Linked DNA regions of Homo sapiens: all the other regions are linked to region 1. The links come from fine-mapping of genetic effects on gene expression. A gene starts in region 1. Each other region holds a variant in brackets. All regions are shown on one strand. Distances are between the middles of the regions.

Region 1 (6,106 bases):
GATGACCTGAAGGCAACCTAAACATAACATGTCCCAAACTGATCAGAGAATCTTTCTCTTTCTTTTTTTTGAGACAGAGTTTCAGGTTTCGCTCTTGTTGCCCAGGCTGAAATGCAATGGCACAATCTCCGCTCACTGCAGCCTCCACCTCCCGGGTTCAAGCGATTCTCCTGCCTCAGCCTCCCGAGTAGCTGGGATTACAGGTGCCCGCCACCACACCTGGCTAATTTTTTGTATTTTTAGTAGAGCCAAGGTTTCACCATGTTGGCCAGGCTGGTCTCAAACTCCTGACCTCAGGTGATCCGCCCGCCTCGGCCTCCCAAAGTGCTGGGATTACAGGCGTGAGCCACCACGACTGGCCTCTAATCAACTTTCTTCCTATATTTCTTGTTTGATAATAAAAGTAATAGCCAACATGAGAATTTTATATATATTATCCTATTTAATCCTCACAACAACTCTACGTATTCTATCATCCTTTATCACCAAATAGGATTTAAAGGCATGGTAACTTGCTCAAGATCACAAAACTATTAAGTGGCAGATGCACACCTTGGCATGTTTGACTCCAAAGGCCATGCTCTCAAACACCTTCCATCCAAGCACATAAAGCAAAATTAGAAACCTTGAAGTCATCCTAGAAATTCTACTCGCTCTCTACATCCTGCCACCCAGTCATCTCTCTCCTACTATCTAAATGTTTCCCAAACTAGTCCTCTCCTCTTTGTACTGCCTCCATTCGGCCTTTCTCTCCTGAACTACTGCAATAACCACCTAATTGATATTTTGACTCGAATCTCAACCACCTATAGGGTTCTTTCTGTATTTAAATTTCATCATGTTGCTGCCCCACTTAAAATTTTTATAAAGGTTTCCAATTGCCAACCAGGTTAAGTACAAACTTCTTAACAACTGGATTTTTGCCTCCTCTCCCAGTCATCCCATCGTTGCCCAAATGTGCTCTAGGGCGATCATACTGCACAGCTCGTCTTTTTTTATTTTTTATTTTTTGTGACAGGGTCTCACTTTGTTGCCCAGGCCAGAGTGCAGCGATTTTGGCTCACTGCAACCTCTGCCTCCCAGGTTCAAGCAATTCTCCTGTCCCAGCCCTGCAAGTAGCTGGGATTACAGGAGCGCACTACCACGCCCGGCTAATTTTCGTATTTTTAGTAGAGACAGGGTTTCACCATGTTGGCCAGGCTGGTCTCGAACTCCTGACCTCAGGTGATCCGCCCGCCTTGGCCTCCCAAAGTGCTGGGATTACAGGTGTGAGCCACCGTGCCCAGCCAACTTGTCTCTCTTAACATGGTGACACTCACTCCTTCCTCAGCTCACATGGTTCTCTCTCAGCTGACTTCTAATCATCCTTCCAGATTTAGTTCAGTATCAACTCTTCAAGCCTTTCTTCCCTGCTGCAGCCTCCTTTCCTTCACCTGCCAACAGATTAGGTATTCCTTCCCCTGCAGTCCCCCTTTACCTCATTTCTAATTAACCTCATCACAAGTTACTCTATTAATATGTGTTTCTGTCTGTTGCTCCTGACTCAGAGTTCTTTGAGGACAGGGGTTTTATATCAATCACACATCGCTAGCATAGCCCCTGGAATATAGCACTCTATACCATATGTGTACCAAATGGAAGGGTTTATATCGGGCTTACAAATCACAGCAAAGAATGTCTGGGAATATCAGGATAGTCAGTCTTCCATATTTGCTGGGAGGGAAAAGGAACACTTCTGAAGAAGTGCTGATGACCCGGAAAGTCAGTTAAGGACAACAGGTGTGCCTAAAAAAGAAGTAAAGATCAGAGAACTCACAGACTTCCATTAGAGAGAACACAAAGAAATCATTTATTTAAAGATCAGACTAAATCCAAAACAATTAGGTTCACAAAGCCAACAGAAATGCAAGATACAGACATACACAGCCAACATTCTCTTAAGTCAATTTCAAAATGTTGAAAGCTATTTCGGCAATAAAAATCACAAACTTTCTGCACTGCCAAGGTGAGGGAAATTACATTTCAAAGGCGATTCCAAAAAAACCTAATCAAGACTTTCCTCAGGATCAATTTTTGGTATTCACATTTCCTTAGCATGTAATACAGGTGCCTGTCTTCGGCGTACGGATAAACCCAGAAGGCCAAGAGCAAAAATCGTGATTAACTTTAAAGAGTTTAACTTGCACCCCTTGTATGATGCCACAGGATACAATACTATAAACCGCCACTCACACAAGATGAGTTACAGTTGCCATGGGTTAAATCTGCTGCCTGGAAAACAAATTTTAAGTCCTCCACCCAGAAGGGTCTGGGGAATGGGACGCAACAAAGACCAAGCCAGAACACCCCGGAGCCCAGACCTGCTCAGAAAACGCGTTCCACGTGTGCGCGCCCGCAAGCCCGGCTTCGCTTCCCGCCCCGCGGGGAGCGCCCTTAGCTGCCCTATAGCGTTCGCGCCCGGACCAGGACGAGTAGAGGGGACGGGGCCCTCGAGCCATCGAGGATATAATAAATACCCGTTAGTCACACCACACTACCTTCCTGCTAGCGCGAGGCAGGCAATTACCATCCACTAGCCGCAAGCAGCCAGCGTCTCACCCGATGCGCAGGCCCAACCCCGCACCCGCACCCGCACCCAGCACGCACGCGCGCGGCAGAGCGGGTGCAGAGAGCGCGGCACTGAGTCCCGCCTCGCCCGGGGGCAACGTGAGATTGGCGCTGCTCGCAGCCAATCCGCTGGCAGCGAGTCTGTCCGGGAAAGCTTCCGCAAGCTGCGCAGCGCCGGGCCTGAGGGCGTGTATCCGCGGCCGTAGCAGCCGGGCTGGTCCTGCTGCGAGCCGGCGGCCCGGAGTGGGGCGGCGGGTAAGTGGGCACGAACGCGGTGGACGCTGTACAGTCGCCTTCGTCGGTAGGGAACTGCTGGCGGCCTAGGGGTCGTCCTGAGAGGGAAAAGCGGGCTCCGGCTGCATCTGCGGCGCCCTGCGTGGCCGTAAGAGCCAAGTGGCCTCAGAGGCTCGCCCCCTACGCAAATCCTCGTTGTCTTGCCAGGGTCCTGACGTGACGTGCGGCCGCGAGAAGGAAGGGGCGGGTTGGGGGAGGCGCTGAGGTGGTAGCAGCGGCGGCTTTTGCTGAGTTTTCTCTGGCCCAGAGCGCTCGGGCTGTCGGTCTAGCAGGGGGGACTCCCCTGAGGGGCCGCTGCGGGTCGCCGTCTTCGGAGGCACCGGCGAGGGCAGAGCCAACAGCCTCTTCACGGTCTGTAAGGTCATTGTTTGCCAGTCGTGGGCAGCGCGGCAAACCTGCTGGGAAAAGGTTTTCTGGTTGGAATAGGATGAGTACCGCACCAGCTTTGCCTTCCAGCTGAGATGTAAATTTCAGGCCTCCATCCTGTGGAACGTGGGAAAACTATCTTGAGTGTTGGCATGTTCTAAGTATGACATAATAGTTTAATGTATGATAAATCATGGGTGTTTAGACGAAAGATTTACACATATAAATTGGAGGCTTTAGCGGTCTTAGTGTAACTAACTTTTCGTCCCCTTAACCCTTGATGCCTGTTCTATGGGTCTCTAGAGCGGAAGGAGCATTATACTCCGGAAACATTTGCTGGAAGGGGTTATGAGAAATTCCTCTCTGTATGCTAACTCCGTAATACAAGCGTTTGTGTATTTTAAAATCACAGCTGTTCCAAATATAATCTAGCCTCGTTTTCCCCCTCCGTCGGATGATAGGTGTTCTTCAGGACAGTTTTATTTTAAGCAATTCTTAGTCTCAAGTAAACACCATCATTAAAAGAACTGAGAACTATTATCAATTCTTCCTTTGGAGTCCATCTTCAATGGAAAGGAGAAGGGAAAACCTTTTTTAAAAAGAAGAAAGAAAACTGAAGTTTTTGATTTGACTAGAGAAATATTCAGAAGACTCCTTATTTTCACCTAGTTTAATCACAAAATTGAGAAACAAACATTATCCCTTGACCATGTAAATTTTACACCACATTATGTCAACAGCATGTACCTTCCACATTGAGTATTCAGAAAGAAGTGATCTGAACTCTGACCATTCTTTATGGATACATTAAGTCAAATATAAGAGTCTGACTACTTGACACACTGGCTCGGTGAGTTCTGCTTTTTCTTTTTAATATAAATTTATTATGTTGGTAAATTTAGCTTTTGGCTTTTCACTTTGCTCTCATGATATAAGAAAATGTAGGTTTTCTCTTTCAGTTTGAATTTTCCTATTCAGTAAAACAACATGCTAGAAAACAAACTTTTGGAAAGGCATTGTAACTATTTTTTCAAATAGAACCATAATAACAAGTCTTGTCTTACCCTAAAGTCAAATGCTGAAGATTCTTTACTGCTGTCATCAGCATCTACAAGTAGCATATTTTGGATGGTGTTTGTGTGCTACTTCAAAGTAACTAGGAAAAAATAATCCTCGCAACACAGGTACCTTGTCATGTCAGAATTGGGGGTGTTAGGTTGCCAGTTGTATCAGTGTTGATTCATTTCATTACTTCCTACAGAGCAAACATGAACGTTGGAGTTGCCCACAGTGAAGTGAATCCAAATACCCGTGTCATGAACAGCCGGGGTATGTGGCTGACATATGCATTGGGAGTTGGCTTGCTTCATATTGTCTTACTCAGCATTCCCTTCTTCAGTGTTCCTGTTGCTTGGACTTTAACAAATATTATACATAATCTGGTAAGAATTTCACATTATACTAAACACTTAAAAGTTTTAAGTTTAGTGGTTGCCGGAAATTAAGGGGAGGAAGGAATGGAAAGTTATTGCTTAATGGGTACAGAGTTTTTGGTTTTGCAAGATGAAGAGAGTTCTGGATGTGGATGGTAATGGTGATGATTGCACAACAATATGAATGTTTTTAATACCACTCAACTGTACATTTAAAGTCCCAGCACTTTGGGAGGCCAAGGCAGGCAGATCACAAGGTCAGGAGTTCAAGACCAGCCTGGCCAACATGGTGAAACCTCATCTCTACTAAAAATACAAAAATTAGCCGGGCATGGTGGCGCATGCCTGTAGTCCCAGCTACTCGGGAGGCTGAGGCAGGAGAATCGCTTGAACCTGGGAGGCAGAGGTTGCAATGAGCCGAGATCATTCCACTGTACTCCAGCCTAGGTGACAGAGTGAGATTTCGTCTCAAAAAAAAAAAAAAAGTGTCTAAGATGGTAAACTTTATGACATGTGTGTTTAAACATAGTTTTTAAAGAAGCTTAAGGTTTTGTGTTGTATACAACTTAGTTTTTTTAACAGCTTTTTTGAGATATAATTCACATGCAATAAAATCCACCCATTTAAAGTGTATAGTTTAGTAGTTTTTAGTATATAAGACTTAATTTTGAAGAATTCTAATCTGGGATAGAATTTTCTTTTTTCTTTCACGCTTTATTTCAACATTGGTCCTTTTTCTAAGTAAGACTTTTTTTTTTCTCATTGTATAGAATCTAGAAAATAGATCATTTTAGTTTCAATCCTTGTTAACTTATCTATCTAAATAGTGTAAGTATACTTCACTGTTTCAGTATTTAAGTTTTGAACTTAATCATCTTATGTGATTCAGGATCTTATGGTGCCTTAGCTGCTGCTTGTTACTCTCTTGTGTTAGCTCTACAGAGTATCAAAGTTTTGATTGACTGTACTGACCATATTATGCAGCCCTGGAAATTGCCTTTTACAAAAACAAAAAATCTTGACAGCGACTTTTCTTGTCTTTAATAACCCATTAAAGTAACGTGAAAAGGAGGAAATACAGTTAGTTGAGGATTTTAATTGAATCCAGTTTAGCAGTACATTTGTTGAAAGATATTTTTTAAAATGAACTTAAAGCATTAAGACAGGAAAACAGGAGAAATTGATTTTTAAAAATTAATATTTATTTTGGCCAGTCACGGTGGCTCATGCCTGTAATCCCAGTGCTTTGGGAGGCTGAGGTGGACAGATCACTTGAGCTCAGGATTTCAAGACCAGCCTGGGCAACATGGTGAAGCCTGAAATTCTGTCTCTACAAAAAATACAAAACCTTAGCCTGGCATGGTGGCAGCACATCTATAGTCCCAGCTATTCGGGAGGCTGAGGTA
Region 2 (6,106 bases), 43 kb after region 1:
AATTCAGCTACATTTACAGAAGAGAAAATATACCCATAGTAGAGATTCTCTTCTCCTCCCTTTTTGGGGGGAGTTAAGTTTGTGATGAAACCACAACATTGAGTCAAAATCCTCTGAATACCTGGCAAACTTCACTGTAACTAACCACTAAGTCTAATTTAGCCCTGTTTCCACCCTGGGAATTTGGCCTAGCTTTGGATCTGGTCCGGAAAACCCATTTGATGCTAAGGTCAGGTGGTGGTCTTGTCTCAGAACTCTCAAATGTATCCCTAGTCTGCTAAAAAGTGACTTCTTGAATCAGATGTTGTGGTAACCAGTCTCCCCAAAACTTTCTAAAATGTGAATAATCCTGGCCAGAGAGGATCTCTAAGATCTAGATGTGTTCTTGTCTGCACCCACAACTCTGGTGCTGAGTTGGAATTAAAACAGGTTGTGGCAGTGGTCATTTAGAATAAAGTTTATCCTCTGCTATACAGGAGATATGTTCATATCAAGAATAGTTCCTCTTGTTGGATCTTACTAAACCTCATTAAAGTCTCCTCTATCGATGATTTCACTACTGCAACTTCTAACATAGGACCATACCTTAAGGAAGGAAGTCCCACCAGTGTTTGTTGCATTTGAAATTCCTTTAAAAATGCTGGGTTAATACTTGCATCTCTGCTGATATTATTTTTTATACGAATGAACTGATTAGGTTTATTCCTGCATTCTTTTAATAGGATGCGGAAAGCATTTGCATTGTATGTTAAGTAGCCAAGAGCAGAGGAACAAGCTGCACGAACCTAAATGAAGAAACAATTCTTTCTTAACCAGTGGGCTTTGTTCTTAAAATATCTTAATGTTCTAATTAGCTATTTCATAGGAAAGTCTCTGTAAGGGAGGGAGCAAGTGTAAGCAAATATGTATGCAAACAAATGGCAGTGTATAGACGGAAGCTTAACTGCCATATTTTTACAGAGAGCTGTCAACTGCCATTGATTTCTAGTGGTTGTTCTCAGTCTTAACTGCATTTTAGAACCACCTGGAGTGTTTAAAAAAAAAAAAGCCCACCAACTAAATCAGAATCCTTTCAGGGGTGTGTGTGTGTGTGTGTGTGTGTGTGTGTGTGTGTGTGTGTGTGTGTGTGTGTGTGTGTGTGTGTGTGTGTGTGTCAGGTAATTCTAGTGTGTGTGTGTGTGTGTGTGTGTGTGTCAGGTAATTCTAATGTGTGTGTGTGTGTGTGTCAGGTAATTCTAATGTGCCACCAAAGAAAGAACTTGAGTTTGAACTAAGGTAGTGGATGCAACCCTGACAATGCATTAGCATCACCCATATAACTTTGACAATTATGCCTGGGTTCCATCCCTAGAAACTCTTATTTAATTATTTTGTTTATCATTCTCAAAGGAGTAGGAACAGACACTTTGGAGAATAGCTAAGTGGTACACATAGGAAAGCTGAACTCTTGGTAACAGAAATCTTAGAGAAAGCAACTTATTTATTTATTTATTACTTTAAAAAAATTTTTTTTTAACATTCAGACGTTACAAGAGCAACTCACTTTTCCACTGGCAAAAACAGAAAGAAGCACAAGTGTCAGGCCACAGGACTCTAGAAAAAATAGTTCTTTGAAGAAAATACCCTCTGTCTATGACCCATAGATTGGTCATATGATTAATTAAAGTATGTTCCTGGCCAGTTGTAGGGAATATGATAGTAGCATAAAAAGTTTCATAGAATGAACATATTGGTCTTTATGTTGGCATCCGGTTGCTCTGTATGCTCATATGTCTTCTAAACCTTGAACCCTGGACCTGTAGTTCAGCTGCTGGGAACTTGTTCGAAATGCAAATTCTAGGGCCCACCTCAAATGTATTGGCTCAGAAACTCTAGGAATGGGGCCAAGCAATATAACAGGCCCTCCAGGTGATTCTGATATACCCTAAAGGTGGAGTAACACTGCTTTAGACCTTAGTGGAAGAGAGTAGGGGAACACTCAGAGGCAAGCCACTGCTGTGACCAGCACGGCCTCTTTCACACACCCTTACATCTAACCCTGCTTGACACATAAGGAAAGCTATCCTATGAATTCCATTTTCATTCATTTCAAATCATAGAAATAACTTAGATCAGAGTCACCGGTTTTCATTAGATACTTAGTAAACAATTATAAGTTTCTTTGTCATCAACGTACTTATAGATTGACTCTTAATTCCAGGATTAAGATGACTTATTTTGTAGGGTTTTGTTTTTGTTTTTTAAATCAGAAACTAATTTGAACAGGTAGTTCTTTTTAAATCTTTAATTGTAGTCGTTTTATACTGCTTTTGTGATTAAAATCCTAATTTTAAGTCTTAGGGTTAAAACAAATGTATATTTTTATAGGAATTAAAATTGTGGATGGCAGATATGTATGACTAATTAGTATTAGAAAAGTCATGTAATTTTGAGTTAGTAACAAGAACTATATTATATATATAACACAGTCATGTAATTTTGAGTTAGTAATAAGAATTATATTATATCTATAACACAGTCAATCAGTGGAAAAATTAGTCCACAGAGGGAGAGGTAAATTATATTTTTAGC[A/G]TATTTAATTTTAGAATTAGTTTTTGCTTGTTTTTACCTCTTCTATTCCCGAGTACAAATGATAGCAGAGCCGTTGGATTGTTCCTAATGTGGTAAATGCTTCTGGGATACCAGCTCTAGAATGAGCCAGGCTTGCTATTAAATTCCCTATAAATTAAACAAGAAAAATGCTTGTGTTATTTAATTGATATAAACTTATAATACTTTCATTAATTGCACATAGCACTGAAAAAAGTTTGTGTCACAAGACATCTCTGTCAATGAAGCAGCACTGAGAAAAAGCATGCATATGTAAATATAGAATAAACTCCCCAAAATTACAGTTTGGTTTTCTGTCACAAATAGTGTAAATTAAATAGGTTTATGTAAGGGTGAAAAATTTGAAAATTAGAGGTTTTCTTTCTCCCATATCTTCAGAATATATTTTGTTTTGAAGTTTTTAGGGTTTTAAAAATAACTATGAACATAATGATTTAATTATCATAAGAAAATTTAGGCCGGGCGTGGTGGCCCACACCTGTAATTCCAGCCCTTTGGGAGACCGAGGTGGGCAGATCACCTGACTTCGGGAGTTCGTGACCAGCCTGACCAACATGGAGAAACCCCATCTCTACTAAAAATACAAAAATTAGCCGGGCGTGGTGGTACATGCCTGTAATCCCAGCTACTCGGGAGGCTGAGGCAGGAGAATCGCTTGTACCTGGGAGGCAGAGGTTGCAGTGAGCAGAGATCGTGCCATTGCACTACAGCCTGGGCAACAAGAGCGAAACTCCGTCTCAAAAAAAAAAAATTAATATGTCCTTTTTGCGGTTGAAATGGCTTTGAGTTAAGCCTTATTAATACTTTAAAATCAATCAATGTATTGCTTATTGAGGTTTAAAAATCACTGAAGTTTTTACATAAAAGTAAATGTTTTCAGATTTAAAATAATAAAGTGTCCCAATAATTAAATGTGCAGCTAGCAACTGAATATTATTTCATTTATATTTGTTTGAAGATAAAAATGTATTTTCATATTTCTGTGTGGAGTATGTGGATACTTTATTGAGATATGACGTGAGTTTTTGTTCTCCTTATATTTTTGTCTGGCCTCTATTATAAGCCAAGAAATTCCTTGTGTTTATTGCCTCCGAATGGGGAAAATTGGTTGTATCATCTAAAGCAAAAATTGTCTAAAGGTAAGCTCTATTTAAAGTTAAAAAGACCCTTTAAAGATGGGAAGTTAGAAATGGAAACAGACCAAGGGAGCAGCTAAGAAAGAGAACTAAAGTTTATAGTTCTCAAAGGAGTAGAAGGAGGAACTCCGAGTAGAGAATAGCTAAGTGGTATAAATAGGAAAACTGAATTCTTGGTAACAGAAATCAGTTTCCTAAAAACTTCTGTGCCTTTGGAGCATCTTCTGGAAACCATGTCAACTTGACACCAAGCACATCAGTTATTTTACACTATACCTGAGGCCTGAATATCAAGCTTTGCCTGAGATACCCTGGACATGCATATGACTGGTTGTGGAGTGCAGAGAAAGTCCAGTAATTTCTGAGATTCATTTCTCCTCATCCTGGAGGAATTAATTTAATATTTGAAAGCCAATGTAATATGGCATTTCTTTCCTATAAGAGTTTGTGGAGGCCAGGTGTGGTGGCTCATACCTGTAATCCCAGCACTTTGAGAGGCCGAGGCGGGCGGATCATGAGGTCAAGAGATCGAGACCATCCTGGCCAACATGGTGAAACCCCATCTCTACTAAAAATACAAAAACTAGCTGGCCTTGGTGGTGCATGCTTGTAGTCCCAGCTACTCGGGAGGCTGAGGCAGGAGAATCGCTTGAACCTGGGAGGCGGAGGTTACAGTGAGCTAAGATCGCACCACTGCACTCCAGCCTGGCAATAGAGTGAGACTCCATCTCAAAAAAAAAAAAAACTGTGGAGTCTAAACCCACTACAGTTGTTTTTCAGAGTCACAGAATTACTATAACATTGAATTAATAATGTTATTTAGATTAAAACATATTTAATAACTTCTTTAAACTTTTTTTCTAGCTAGTTTCCATCAGAAAGTTTTCATTGCTTCATTTTTCCTTCCTTGCCATGCACATATACTTCATAAACATGTAATTCTATGGCATCAAGTAAAGTTTCCTTTAGTGATACATTTTAATTAAAAAACAAATACTTATTTGTTTATATTGGTAGTAGTCACTGCATATTACTCATTCTGACCCTGCCTTATGTTACTTTAAGAGTGGCATAACAAGTCAATTAAATATTACTGATCACCTATTATGTGTGAGCTGTTGGGTTAGGTCTGCAGTAGACACAGTTATACAATAGCAATAAATGTGTTGAGAACGCTATGGGACCATCTTGCTTTGCTTTGTTGCACAGCGATGTAAAGAACTTTTCAGTGTTAGCAAAATGTGCACAACTGGACAAAAGGAAACCAGACAGAGGTACATCTGTGTAAATCTGCCACCACTATTATAAATCAGTTTTTTTATTTTGCTGTTTGTAGGTCATAGGTGAATTCTCATTTATATCTTGGAAAAAAAAGTTAAGGGTTTGAAAAAGTAATTAGGAAAGCAAAAAGTCTGTATTCAGAGTTACTCAGCTTCTGTTTGGGGTACAGAGTAGACACCCATTGTTTCGTGTAGACTTGCTGTGGAGTTCCATGTAGATATAAACATAAGTTCGTTCTTTAAACTTGTGGCAGTGTATCAGGCGTATTATTTTATTATTATTCAGATTACAATAAACTGTTTTTGAAAATAGTTTTATGTGGCTAAAATTAACTTCTAGTCATTTCTTACCTGTCAAGACAATAGTAGAAGTCTGAACTGAATACAGACTATCAACTAAAATAGTAACACCTCTTGCAGACAAAGTAATATGGTCCATATCTCTAATGACTTTAGCCAGTACAACAATCTGAAAACAGAAAAGAAGCAGAGAGTCTTTGAACATTTTCTACTCAGCTTCTCTAATTACACGTTTGTCATTTTTTATGTTTTTTTTTTAATTCTTTTGATACTTCTTAAAGGGAGTGTTTAGAGGATTCAATAGAAGCAGCATGTGGTGGTGGGGAGAGTTAGAGTATTTGTCCCTGTCTGGTCATAGCAGTGATCATAGGGGGTACTATTATTCTTCCTACAATGTTTGCAACTTTTGCACCCTTTCAATATGGGTTCATAGAAATTACTTCTCTTAAAGGGCACAGGATAGAAAATGAAGAGAGAGAATAAGACTTCCCAGATACATACAGTTGTTACTAGGTTGAAGGATCAGTGTGATCAACTAAAGATTTGCAGTTAGAAAACCTGTCTTGGATGCTAACATGTTTTTCTACCTATTTACTTTTAATATGGGGGTGATGAAAATAATACTACCTGATTGTCAACCTTACAGGCTTGTTATAAACATCAGATGAGGTATAAAGGCATAAGCAAGTGTCTTATAACTTGTAAAATTCTGTATTAATGAAGAAATCCTCATAGATAATGGAGTTTTTATGAGGTAGAAGGGGCTTATGTGCAAAGTAC
Region 3 (6,106 bases), 31 kb after region 1:
ACTCAGCTATATAATGATTAACTTGAAGACATGCTTTTAGCTGTAATATCATTTTTCTTCATTTTTACAATCTTAAAACTACAAAATGCTGTCTTTCTTTCTTTCAGAACAGGTGGGATTGTTCCTCCAGCAGCTCAACAGCTTCACAGAGAAAATATTCAACGAATAGTACAAGAAGCTCTTTCTGCCAGTGGAGTCTCTCCAAGTGACCTCTCAGCAATTGCAACTACCATAAAACCAGGACTTGCTTTAAGCCTGGGAGTGGGCTTATCATTTAGCTTACAGCTGGTAGGACAGTTAAAAAAGCCATTCATTCCCATTCATCATATGGAGGCTCATGCACTTACTATTAGGTTGACCAATAAAGTAGAATTTCCTTTTTTAGTTCTTTTGATTTCTGGAGGTCACTGTCTGTTGGCATTAGTTCAAGGAGTTTCAGATTTTCTGCTTCTTGGAAAGTCTTTGGACATAGCACCAGGTGACATGCTTGACAAGGTAATTAAGAATTAATTTCTCCATTCTTTTTTGTTATGTTGTCCATTTCAACTAAGTAGCAATAGATGTGCTACCACCATTCACCTAAATATTTCTGAATTTTATCTTAGTAAACTGAAAAAAATTCACATATGGTGAGAAAAAATAGAAAGAGTAGTACACAATTTTATAATTCTTAGCCTTTCTTAATAAAATGGTAAGAGGTTCATATCTGTACATAAAGGCTGAAATAGTTTGCAGATACAGTTATGTATTTTGCCAAATAATGTATGTGAAAGAACGTGCTTCGTAAACTAACATACTGCAAAAAAGGTAAAATAAGAGAATATATATAGATTAACATAAGGACATTAAAGATGCAATGCACAGAATTAAATCACACAATTACTTACACCACAGACAGGGTCCCCCCCCACCCCCCTTTGTTTTAGAATACTACAGAGGCTACTGCCATATATAGGAAAACAAACAAACAAACAAACAAAACACTGCTTCCCACAGTGAAATAATAGGAAGTATAGGACAAGTTCTTATTATTGACGTTCATCATTAAGCAGTTATTGTCAACTTCAAGCCCATTTTCCAACCAATAGAAGAGCAAACATAGACAGGGGCAGTGATTGGCCTCTTATTGTTCGGGTCATCATAAGGAACAGGGTTGTCTGCTTACCTGAATATCAGCTATAGTCTATATTTGCCAAAGTATAGCATGTTTTATTCATTCAGGGGTTTTTTGTTTTGTTAGTAATTTTCAATTTATTTCCTTTGCATCTTTTCGTTTCACAGTATTTAATTTTATGACTCTAAAAAATATGTTTCTTTGATAGGTGGCAAGAAGACTTTCTTTAATAAAACATCCAGAGTGCTCCACCATGAGTGGTGGGAAAGCCATAGAACATTTGGCCAAACAAGGAAATAGATTTCATTTTGACATCAAACCTCCCTTGCATCATGCTAAAAATTGTGATTTTTCTTTTACTGGACTTCAACACGTTACTGATAAAATAATAATGAAAAAGGAAAAAGAGGAAGGTATATTTCTAATTAGTAAAGTTGAACAGATAAATATTCCTGGATTGTGCCTAAAAATAGCTGCTCATTTCTGCAGGTATTGAGAAGGGGCAAATCCTGTCTTCAGCAGCAGACATTGCTGCCACAGTACAGCACACAATGGCATGTCATCTTGTGAAAAGAACACATCGGGCTATTCTGTTTTGTAAGCAGAGAGACTTGTTACCTCAAAATAATGCAGTACTGGTAAGTTTTATCTCATTTTATAGTAATAGTTACACTTTGCAATATGTTACTTTTTTCCCAAGACCTTGACCTTGTGTTTAGGATGAACAGATCTTTATGCCTTATGCTAGCCCTGACAGTATGAAATTATGCAGGATAGGAAAGACTAACAGCCATTTCTTGTACTAGTTTGGTAGCTTTATGGGACAGCTGTATAGCTTCTATGGCACATAAGTCTAATTTTGCATCTTCTTGTTGGATTTAAAAGAGGGCTTACAATAAAGAAAGTAAATGCAGTAACTGCTATCACTATTTTTAGAAAAATAGGTGGATTTCCTTCATCCTTTGATGAAATCCCTTTGTTTGTTTGTTTTTTTAATAAGCCAGTCAAATTTAGCAGTGGGAGGTGGTATACCAACTTTCGTGACACTAATGTTGATAAAGTTCTGATAATCCACTATATTGTACCAGCCAAAATCCCTTTAATTGTGCTTAAAAGCCTTGACAAACATCCTGTTTAACTGTATCTTAAACTTTATTCATTTAAAAATTATAAACTAAAGTGGGAAAATGTTTAAATGGTAGTAATTCATAGATGGAATTTTACATGGATATCAAAGAATAATTTTTTCAGAGTTATGTAGTAAAATGCACAAAATAATAAAAATTTCAGGGTCTAAAATAGTGTACTATGATTGAAATTATATTAAATAAATATTTAGATGAAAGGTTGGAAGAAAATATACAAAAATGCTAGTAATGTTTGTATGCTATTAGAATTATTAGTAATTTTTTTCTTTCCAAATTTTTATTACATAGATATGTCATCTGCCCATTACCCATCTCAAAATGGGATAGTTTATTATTGTTTAATGCTGATATTTTTCTCCAGGTTTAATTAGCAGCTTGGTTCATATCCATATATGATAGTTATTTTGGTTTTCTCAATTCCTTCAGGTTGCATCTGGTGGTGTCGCAAGTAACTTCTATATCCGCAGAGCTCTGGAAATTTTAACAAA[T/C]GCAACACAGTGCACTTTGTTGTGTCCTCCTCCCAGACTATGCACTGATAATGGCATTATGATTGCATGGTAAGCCACAGGATATACGTGCTTCACTCATAACTATGTAAATATTAATTGCCATTTTATCATACTAAGCCTTCTTCCTTCAGATCTTGGAGCTATTGATTTTATTTTAATGCTTCTTATTTAGGAATGGTATTGAAAGACTACGTGCTGGCTTGGGCATTTTACATGACATAGAAGGCATCCGCTATGAACCAAAGTATGTGGTATCATTCATGATCTTTATGCAAGTTACATTACTTAAGACAAAGCCTGGATTTTGCCTTTATATATGAGGTTTTCATTGACATTCTGGTGGTACTTGAAGGAAAGTTACATAAATTTCTTTCATGAACCTAGTTAAGGTTGATACCATATGAGAAATATTTTTGCTACAGTATCAAATTATAAAAATCTTGGCAAGTTTAGGTGAGTTAGAAACAGGTCATGAGTAAGGGTGATGAATTCCCTCCTTTGGAACTAGAATGTAAACTATGTCCATGACCTGGACTTTTGCAATGTCAAGAACATCTCAGAACCAGCAAGTATGCTGGGAAATTTAAGGAAAACATGCAGAAAGCATTCAGGTGTGAGAGTGGGTTGTGATTATGCTCTTACACAGGCAGTTGAGAATTGGCCGAAAGATAGCTGTTTCCTGCAAGCCTTATTTCCTCTCCCAAATCAAAGTTCCAGTGAATAGCACAGTTTTTTCTTTACTTTTTTTCTTTTTTTTTTTAGAGTCTTAGTGTCACCCAGGCTAGAGTGCAGTGGCGCATTCTCGGCTCACTGCAACCTCTGCTTCCCATATTCAAGTGATTGTCATGCCTCAGCCTCCTGAGTAGCTGGAATTACAGGTTCACACAGCTGTGCCCAGCTCATTTTTTGTATTTTTAGTTTTTGGGTTTTGCCACATTGGCCAGGCTGGTCTCGAACTCCAGGCCTCAAGTGATCCACCCACCTCGGCCTCCCAAAATGCTGGGATGACAGGTGTGAGCCACCACACCTGGCTGGTTTTTCAAATTACTATCAAATTCTGTTTTAATTCTGGAATAGTAAAAGACAATTATTTTCATAAATAATTATATTTTGAACACTGTTTCATCTGATGTTTTAAAACTTGTCAGCATTGGCCAGGCATGGTGGCTCATGCCTGTAATCCCAGCACTTTGGGAGGCTGAGGTGGGCAGATCATCTGAGGTTAGGAGTTCGAGACCAGCCTGGCCAACATGGTGAAACCCCGTCTCTACTGAAAATACAAAAATTAGCCAGGCGTAGTGGCAGGCACCTGTAATCGCAGCTACTCGGGAGGCTGAGGCAGGAGAATTGCCTGAATCCTCGAGGTGGAGGTTACAGTAAGCCGAGATCACGCCACTGCACTCCAGCCCGGGTGACAGAGTGAGACTCCATCTCAAAAAAAAAAAAAAAAAACACAACTTGTCAGCATTATATTCCGTAACTTGACAGTTGTGCTATATATGAATTACATGTATGCTGATGATGAATGAACTGAATTGAGTTAGTAGTACCGGAAGGCATCCCTTTGATACCTTGTCTCAGATAGAGTATATCCTCTGATTCAGTTATGCCCCCTTGTGGCAGTGTTGAGGCTGGAGATAATGGCTTTTTCCAGGTTGGGATTCAGTCAAAGCAAAGCCTTATCTTGGACACCATGGTAGAAAAGCAGAAATCTGAAGCAAAAATTAGTTACTGAGGAGGAACAGAAAAAGACAGCAGGAACTAAGACCTCTTTGGCTAGTAATGGCAAAGGATGGTAGAAAAGGGGCAAGGCAGCTTTTGAAACTTCAGAGAAGAACCTATAGAAACCTAGGACATTTCTAAAATGTGAATGGATACAGGTTTGACTTTAGCTGTGTGGCAAAAATGTTTTTACCTTTTTAGCTTTGTAGAGAATTATAAGATATTTTTCATTATTTTTATATTTCATTTTATGTTTTTAACTTATTTACAGTATTTGAGAACAGCAAAACTGTTTCTTTCAAAAATATCTCAAAATTTAGATTTCTTATTAATGAGACTAGCTTTCATTATCCTGACTTGAGGTCCCAGTATATTTGTAAGTATTTAAGAATCATCACCACATATGATGAATTAAATATTTGATATTTATACCATCAGAATTCTAAGCAAATAGTCTGCAGAACTAGTGATGGATCATGAAGCAAATAAATAATACGATTTGTCTGCTTATGATGTAGATGTCCTCTTGGAGTAGACATATCAAAAGAAGTTGGAGAAGCTTCCATAAAAGTACCACAATTAAAAATGGAGATATGATTTCTGCTGTTCAAAAAAGTCCCTAAAGGTAGTATTAAGGTTAAAATTAAGTTTTTATTGTTTTGTGTATCAAATTGTAGAAGATATATAATATTAATTATTCATCAAGATTTTATTTTTTTTTTTCTATTTGATGTTTTACCTGCTCTTCTGAGATACTATAATGTGTTAAAAGTCTTACAAGGGAAGATAGTTTTTTTCTTTTAATTATTAAAAACCAAAATAAAACATCTTTTGAGAAAGGAATGTATTGATGCTGGCAGGTAGAAAGGAAGCTTTGAAAGAAGCACAGTAATTTTGCTGAATTCTGGCCCTGTATCATACAGGCCTAGGACTTTCCCCCACTTCCTCAAATCAGGATAGGAGAAGCTATTTTTTAACTCCTACTGAAACAAGAACCTGACTTTATAATGAGAGAGCAGTTTAATTTTTTTTTATCATTATTATTTTTTGGAGATAATCTCCCTCTGTCACCCAGGCTGGATTGCAGTGGCGTGATCTCAGCTTACTGCATGCAACCTCTACCTTCTGGGTTCAAGCGATTCTCCTGCTTCAGCCTCCTGAGTAGCTGGGACTACAGGAGCCCACCACCACGTCTGGCTAATTTTTTGTTTTTTTAGTAGAGATGGGGTTTCACCATGTTGCCCAGGGTGGTCTTGAACTCCTGAGCTCAGGCAATCTGCCTGCCTCAGCCTCCCAAAATGCTGGGATTACAGATGTGCTCAAGAGAGCAATTTTAGATCAGTCATGTCAAAGCAGACATTTCCAAATCAAGACAAAAGCTGACTTTCTCTAACATAATATGTTATTAATTTTAAGAGTTCGTTATTAGGTATCATCTCTGGAGTAAATAGGATGTCTATGCATTTTTTAAAATCTATATAATTTGAGGTTTTACAATTTTAACATATAAGTAATCCCTCAAGTATGTATTGTACGCTTTAGTTGTCCACATACTTTCACATCAGTTATTTGAGAAATTGTATATAATCAGATGGAAATAAATGAGGGAGTTT
Region 4 (6,106 bases), 120 kb after region 1:
GAAAGGACAAAGACATTTGTTATCTGGAATATTACATAAAAATGAATGAGTTGCAAAAGCAAATTTAACTAGAGAATCAAATCAACACACTACTGTTAATATGTATGTCAAGATACGTAATAAATTATTTAGATCTAGCCACTATATTTGTTATATCACAATTCTGTATTAGCTGCTTTAAACATTCTTCATATGCATTTTTATTTGAGCATAATATAATACTTTCATAAGTAAGGGCTTTTACTAGACAAATTCCTTTCTCTATGACCTAGCTGAAATAACAGACTGAATTTCTACCTCTCTCATGTCCTTCAAAGAGAAAACAGTTTAACAGTTTACGGACTTTATTATGGCATTAGTTATCAGTTTATAGTGAAATCTTGAAAATTATGACAGAATAATGACATAGTAGCTAAACTTTTACATGGGCTAGGACCAGAAACTTAAGAAAGACAACTGTGTAAAGGCAACTACAAGTCAGTGGAAAGAGGAAAAGACTGAAGTAGAGACAAGAAACAATGAAGTCAAAGAGAGAGAGAGAGAGAGGGAGAGAAAGTGTAGTATGTTTAATTCTCATGAAGCTTACTTGGACTTCCTATTCTTGGATGCTTGCACCCTTGTAATAAACTACCACTTAATCAATTAGCCTACTTGAATGAATTTTTGCTCTTTATAACTAAATGTCACATCTTCCTTTATCCTTACTTAATGTTTTAGAAAGTTTTATTCAAATACTGTACTTGTTCACTACCTTCAGAAATATGATATAGGTAAAAATAAACCTGAAAAGCAAGAATACATACATGAAAGTGCCTTGGTTTCTTTGAAGGTTTTAGGTAATCTGCAATATGTAACTAAATTGTGTTCAAAAAACGTGGCAGAGGAATATCCAGTGTAAGGACTACCTTCAAATCAGCATGGATCTGTACATACAGAAATGTCTATAGAGACAAAGCCAGTTTCTATAACACTGGAGAAGGCTTGCAGGTGGGGCTTATGCCCTTACTGGGAGGAAAGCAAACATTAAAAGCTGAACAAAACCCTCTAAATACCTTCTCTTAGTATTTCACTATCTCAGTTTTACTCTGTTTTTTTGTGGAAACAGAGTCTCGCACTGTCTCCCAGGCTGGAGTGCGGTGGCGCGATCTGGGCTCACTGCAACCTCCACCTCCTGGGTTCAGCCATTCTCAGCCTCCCGAGTAGCTGGAACTACAGGCATGCAGCACCATGATCAGCTAATTTTTTTGTATTTTTAGTAGAAGTGGGGTTTCATCATGTTTACCAGGCTGGTCTTGAACTCCTGTCCTCAGGTGATCCACCCGCCTTGGCCTCCCAAAGTGCTAGGAAGACAGGTGTGAGCCACCATGCCTGGCCTACTTTGACAGTATTTTTCACTATAGTCTTAAAAACAATCCTGTCATTATGTTACCTTTGAAAATTACTGAAAAGACATTTCTTAGAGAATGAGTTCTAGAAAATAAATGCTCTCCTGGCTCTTCCCAGCTCTGTTTCTGACTTTGTTTATAATACAAAGCCAAGCTATTATTGCTGCTCTTATTCATGTGAACAGTCTCCAAAGAGAAAACAAACTTTAAAGTCTCCATTTACACTCTGCTGTTTTTATAAAAATACCGTAAGAACACTCAAATGATTAGAATTACCTTGCTTCTTTTCCATGATCACCAATAACTCTGTCATCACGACCAAGATTTCTAGAAGAAATTCGACCCAGTTCCATCATTATTTCCTTATTCAATCCTTCCAGCCCATGCGACTGAAAGCGGACACGATGACGAGAATAACCTGCAAGTTGCTCATCTGCACCAATTCCAGTGAGAACTACCTATGAGGTTTAAAGAAATCCGTATAAAAATGTTATCAACTACACAGTAAAGAAAATAAGATAAATGCACCTAAAATATGCTATATTCTTACAATCAAAATGCTAAAAGCTTTAAGGGTCAAAAATAGGTCTCAGGAATTCTCAGGAGAAGAAACACTGTGTCATACCTTTGCATTGCTCTGATAGGATTTCACTCCTTCCTGGGCCACTAACCAACCAATTCCTCTAGAAGCAAACCAGACTGCACAGCCAATGCTATCATCCAAAACTGTATCCAATGGCCGAATTAAGTGACATATTCGAGTTCTTCTTAATTTCTGCAGTTCTTCCATAGAAACATTAATTTCAACAAAATTCCAAATTCGGGAAGGGCTAACAGCTTGTAGTTCCTTTAGTCCCGCCCTTCCTGTGATTCGATCTGGTACACTGACATGTTTATTAGGACTGTCAGCAGCAGCAGCAGCAACATCTTTAGAGAATTCTTCTGAAGGTATTTCACATTTATTTTTCTGTTTATTCCCTTCTCTGTTAAAGGTAGTTGGCATGGTCTTTTCTTCAGCTATGAAAGCTACATTAAGAAGATCAATTGGTTCATCTAAAGGAATATGACGGTCAGCAAGGGTTGCAATAACCATGGAATCAATGCCCCCAGAAAACAGGATTGCAACATTTGCTTTCCTATCACACGTTTTCAAAACTTCATTTGCTGTCAGGTTTTCATCCCTAGGTAAACACAAGACACGTTTCTTGACTGCTACACTCAGGACATCAATGAACTGCTGAATTACTTCCTTCATGTGTACATCAGTAAGAAAGACTTGAAGTATCTCTCTTGTAGGTGGCACATTGGAAATATTACTGCAATGAGTCTCCA[A/G]TGCAGCTTGTGGCAACATCATATTTAAAGGAACAACAGGTTTTTCAAGATACAGTTTGGCTTCATTTGCTACCACTGATACAAATGCTGGTAAGTCTGCTGAAATTTGACTCAGGCTATTAACATTTTCTTCAATAATATTCTCCCTAGAAATATATTTCCAAGGATACAGTTGTAAAATAATGCATCCGGAAATGACAGTAGACTTAAGATCAATTCTGAAAAGTCCAGATGCTGGAACTTCTTGCCACTGATTTGCCAATCCAGATGTTTGGGTGCCAACTGAAGAGAGGCAGAAACTCTTGCCCAAATTACTAAAATGCCAAAGCAAGCTACGGCGACCAAAAAAATCCCTACCAAACCATAAATAATGACTAGATGCTTGATAATATATAAATGACCAGGGACCTTGTACTTCTGAGAAGAGTGACAAAATCTCAGATTCATTCTTACAGGAGGAAAGATAATTAAACAAAATTTGAGTGTCATTCTCTTCAGCTTCAACCTTTATTCCACTAAAAATTTCTCCATTCCATAGAAACACATTGCCTCTTTCATCTTCCACAGGCTGGGTAGTCAAAACACCCCTCAAGTGTAGGACGTGAGCAGAAAATAAACACTGGTAGTTAACATCAGACTTTAACAATTGTTTACTACTATTGGGTCCCCGCTGTTTAAGATTATATAGTAAGTCCTCTTTTAAATCTTGACTGAAATGCTCAGCAGAAAAGTTTACAGAACAACAAATGCCACACATTGTTATGTGAAATCAGGTTGACTATTTCTTGATTTTGGTCTTGTCTAAGTTTTCTATTTCTTGGTATTCTTTTTTCAGTTCATCCAATATATCTGTTGCAGGGAAGGAGAATAAATATTAAATAACATAAAAATTCTTGGACTTTTACCTAGCAATTCAGAGGGCAACACAAGCTGTTTACCAAAATCAAACCATATAAACACACACACTGTGCCAGTACCAATGATAATTAACAACAGGCTACTAATAAAGAATGTTTATCTTTTAGAAAAATAGCTTCTGTTTTGCCGAGTGCTGATTTTGGCCCAAGCACTTGGCTAAGCACTTTTAACATAGCATCTTATTTAGATCCCACAATACCTTGGAGGCTTAAAGTATTTCACCCAAAGTCACAAAGGTAGAAAGTGGTAATGGTTTGTCATACTTAGACCTGTTTAAAATTCTAAAGCACATGTTAATAACTATTGCTTTCTAAAACATTTATAATATATATATATATATATATATATATATATATATATATATATATATATACACATATATATATAACTGTTGACTCATCTTCGGAAGCCTAATTTGAAGAAAATCAAACTGCTGCATTAATCTTTAGATATATATTTTAACACTCAGATGAGTATAATTTAGGCACCCCCCAAAAACCCCAAAAAAGAAAAAACTTACTCTTGCTCTCAGACAGCATTTCTGTTCGGTCTGCAAGAAAGAATATATTGCTGTTCTGTTGTTGCCTATATACTTTCTGGAAAACATAATTTAGGCTAATATCAAATTTTGATCTAAAAAGTAGATATTAAAATCCTTAAACCCTATTATCACTAATTCTTGAAAATCTATTCAGTACAATACTTTAGCAAATACAGACAAGCAAAAAGACAAATAAAAGTCACCCACTGCCCAACTACCAGAAATTGCTACTACTGAAATGAAACTATTTTCTCTCCATTTTAACAAAAAAGGTTCTTACTGTACCTGCAGATTTATGCTTTTATCAATGAGCAATATATTGAGAATACTTTTTCTTATCAGTAAGTGTTCTTTTACAAGAACACCAAAATGCCAAAGCAAGCTATGGTGACCAAATTATACCTACTGCTATATAGATATAATATATTACAGTTTATTTGCTCAGCTTCAAATACTAGACATTTAAGGTGTTACCATCTCTTTGCTATTGTAAATCAAGGTTGTGATGATTATCTTTGTAACTAAATCTTTGTGCACTACCATGATTCTCTCCTAAGTATCAACTACTATAAATGGAACTGCTGGGTCAAAGTGTTATAGTTTTGAATTGTTGAGACTTTTTGCCAATTTGCCCTCTAGAGAAAGTCTGTATTAATTCTGCCTCAACTTCTTTTTTTTTTTTTTGAGAAGGAGTCCTGCTCTGTAGCCTAGGCTGGAGTGCAGTGGTGTGCTCAGCTCACTGCAACCTCTGCCTCCCAGGTTCAAGCGATTCTTGTGCCTCGGCCTCCTGAGTAGCTGGGATTACAGGCACACGCCTGGCTAATTTTTGTATGTGCCTCAACTTCTAATATTCCATAAGTGACAATATCAGAAATATCTAACCAGCCAGTTATTACATAATCTTTACAAAGCTTTTAAGAGCTCAAACTCATTTCTTCCTGAATGTTAAAATGCAATTTGACACTATAACCATACACAAAGCAGTAGCTTACTTGTTTGTAACATATTAATGGAAATGGCATTAAATAACCATGTTACACATTTAGGAAAATCTATGTAAAAATTTTTTGGAGGGAGGGGAAGCAATGTATCCTTTTTTGTTCAATAATTATCCACATTCATTTAAAAGAAAAGTTTCTTCTCATCTCAATATAAAGTTCGTTTATATCAAAAGAAAACATCAAATTCAGGTATAAAACATCATTAGTGATTATAGCTCCAAGATACCAAAATACAACTAGTATCATTTGTTGCAAAGGCAATGTGAATGGCATATGATAGAAAAAAGACATCTTCAGCTATGAGATCTATCCATTTAAAAAAAGAATCTAGACACTTGCAATTTTAAAAGATGCTGAAATACTATACATTTTATTAAAGTATGATTAAATCTTATATATACTTCTTATAACTTTAATATATAGTTAACATAAATAAACCTCCCACATATTATTCAGAATTCCTATAATAACTCACCCTATTCTTCTTAAGGTTAGAAAGTTCATCCACCACAATTTTTTGTTCTTTAATCTATTGAAATAAAGAAAAACTCCTTAAGTCAGATGTTTTCAAAGTATGCTCAATGAAAATCCCTTAAGGGGTTGTTTTAAAATTAGAGATGGGATAAGGGGCTATGATGTACTGGTTTTCCAAACGGGCAGTTTGTGAATATACAGATCATTTTCAACAGGAGTCTCTGTGTGGGGGTACAGTTCAGGAAAAGCTGGAGGAGAAAAAACAGTGATTAGACTTGCAAAATGTTAGGTAACCCATTAAGACCAGACAGGGATTTTCGTGTTCATAACCAGCAATCATGCCAAGGACTACAGTTACTAAACAAGGTTTATACCTTTTGTTAAAAATATATGATATACACCAGGCCGGGTGCGGTGGCTCATGCCTGTAATCCCAGCACTTCGGGAGGCCAAGG

Evidence for each region. PIP is the estimated chance that this variant, and not a neighbour inherited with it, causes the effect.
Region 2: its variant is fine-mapped to the expression of ORMDL1 in monocytes (Quach 2016, PIP 0.95). The same link has a PIP of 0.9 or more in monocytes after Pam3CSK4.
Region 3: its variant is fine-mapped to the expression of ORMDL1 in whole blood (TOPMed, PIP 0.95).
Region 4: its variant is fine-mapped to the expression of ORMDL1 in whole blood (TOPMed, PIP above 0.99).

Annotation. Positions count from the first base shown.
Region 1 is chr2:189,781,025-189,787,130 of GRCh38, reverse strand. ORMDL1 (ORMDL sphingolipid biosynthesis regulator 1) reads left to right here and starts at 2,792. Exons shown (of 5, transcript NM_016467.5): 1 at 2,792-2,862; 2 at 4,008-4,117; 3 at 4,529-4,709. The coding sequence starts at 4,536. PMS1 (PMS1 homolog 1, mismatch repair system component) reads right to left here and starts at 2,681. Exons shown (of 13, transcript NM_000534.5): 1 at 2,538-2,681. RefSeq lists enhancers at 2,264-2,313, 2,864-3,093, 3,104-3,163, 3,254-3,333, 2,619-3,505 and a silencer at 2,674-2,723.
Region 2 is chr2:189,737,954-189,744,059 of GRCh38, reverse strand. ANKAR (ankyrin and armadillo repeat containing) reads right to left here. Exons shown (of 23, transcript NM_001378068.1): 19 at 5,378-5,495; 20 at 2,609-2,718; 21 at 586-785. Among named protein-coding and RNA genes, the nearest start is that of OSGEPL1-AS1, 22 kb to the left of the region's middle. The variant A/G (reference allele first, on the strand shown) is at 2,572.
Region 3 is chr2:189,749,562-189,755,667 of GRCh38, reverse strand. OSGEPL1 (O-sialoglycoprotein endopeptidase like 1) reads left to right here. Exons shown (of 9, transcript NM_022353.3): 3 at 108-495; 4 at 1,323-1,527; 5 at 1,604-1,752; 6 at 2,689-2,819; 7 at 2,944-3,015; 8 at 5,012-5,118. The coding sequence ends at 5,090. It also overlaps a transcript of ANKAR not described here. Among named protein-coding and RNA genes, the nearest start is that of OSGEPL1-AS1, 10 kb to the left of the region's middle. The variant T/C (reference allele first, on the strand shown) is at 2,751.
Region 4 is chr2:189,663,501-189,669,606 of GRCh38, reverse strand. ASNSD1 (asparagine synthetase domain containing 1) reads right to left here. Exons shown (of 6, transcript NM_019048.4): 2 at 5,653-5,706; 3 at 4,156-4,231; 4 at 2,011-3,566; 5 at 1,662-1,843. The coding sequence starts at 3,474. ASDURF (ASNSD1 upstream open reading frame) reads right to left here. Exons shown (of 4, transcript NM_001353493.2): 2 at 5,653-5,706; 3 at 4,156-4,231; 4 at 3,206-3,566. The coding sequence ends at 3,496. Among named protein-coding and RNA genes, the nearest start is that of ASNSD1, 5.1 kb to the right of the region's middle. The variant A/G (reference allele first, on the strand shown) is at 2,718.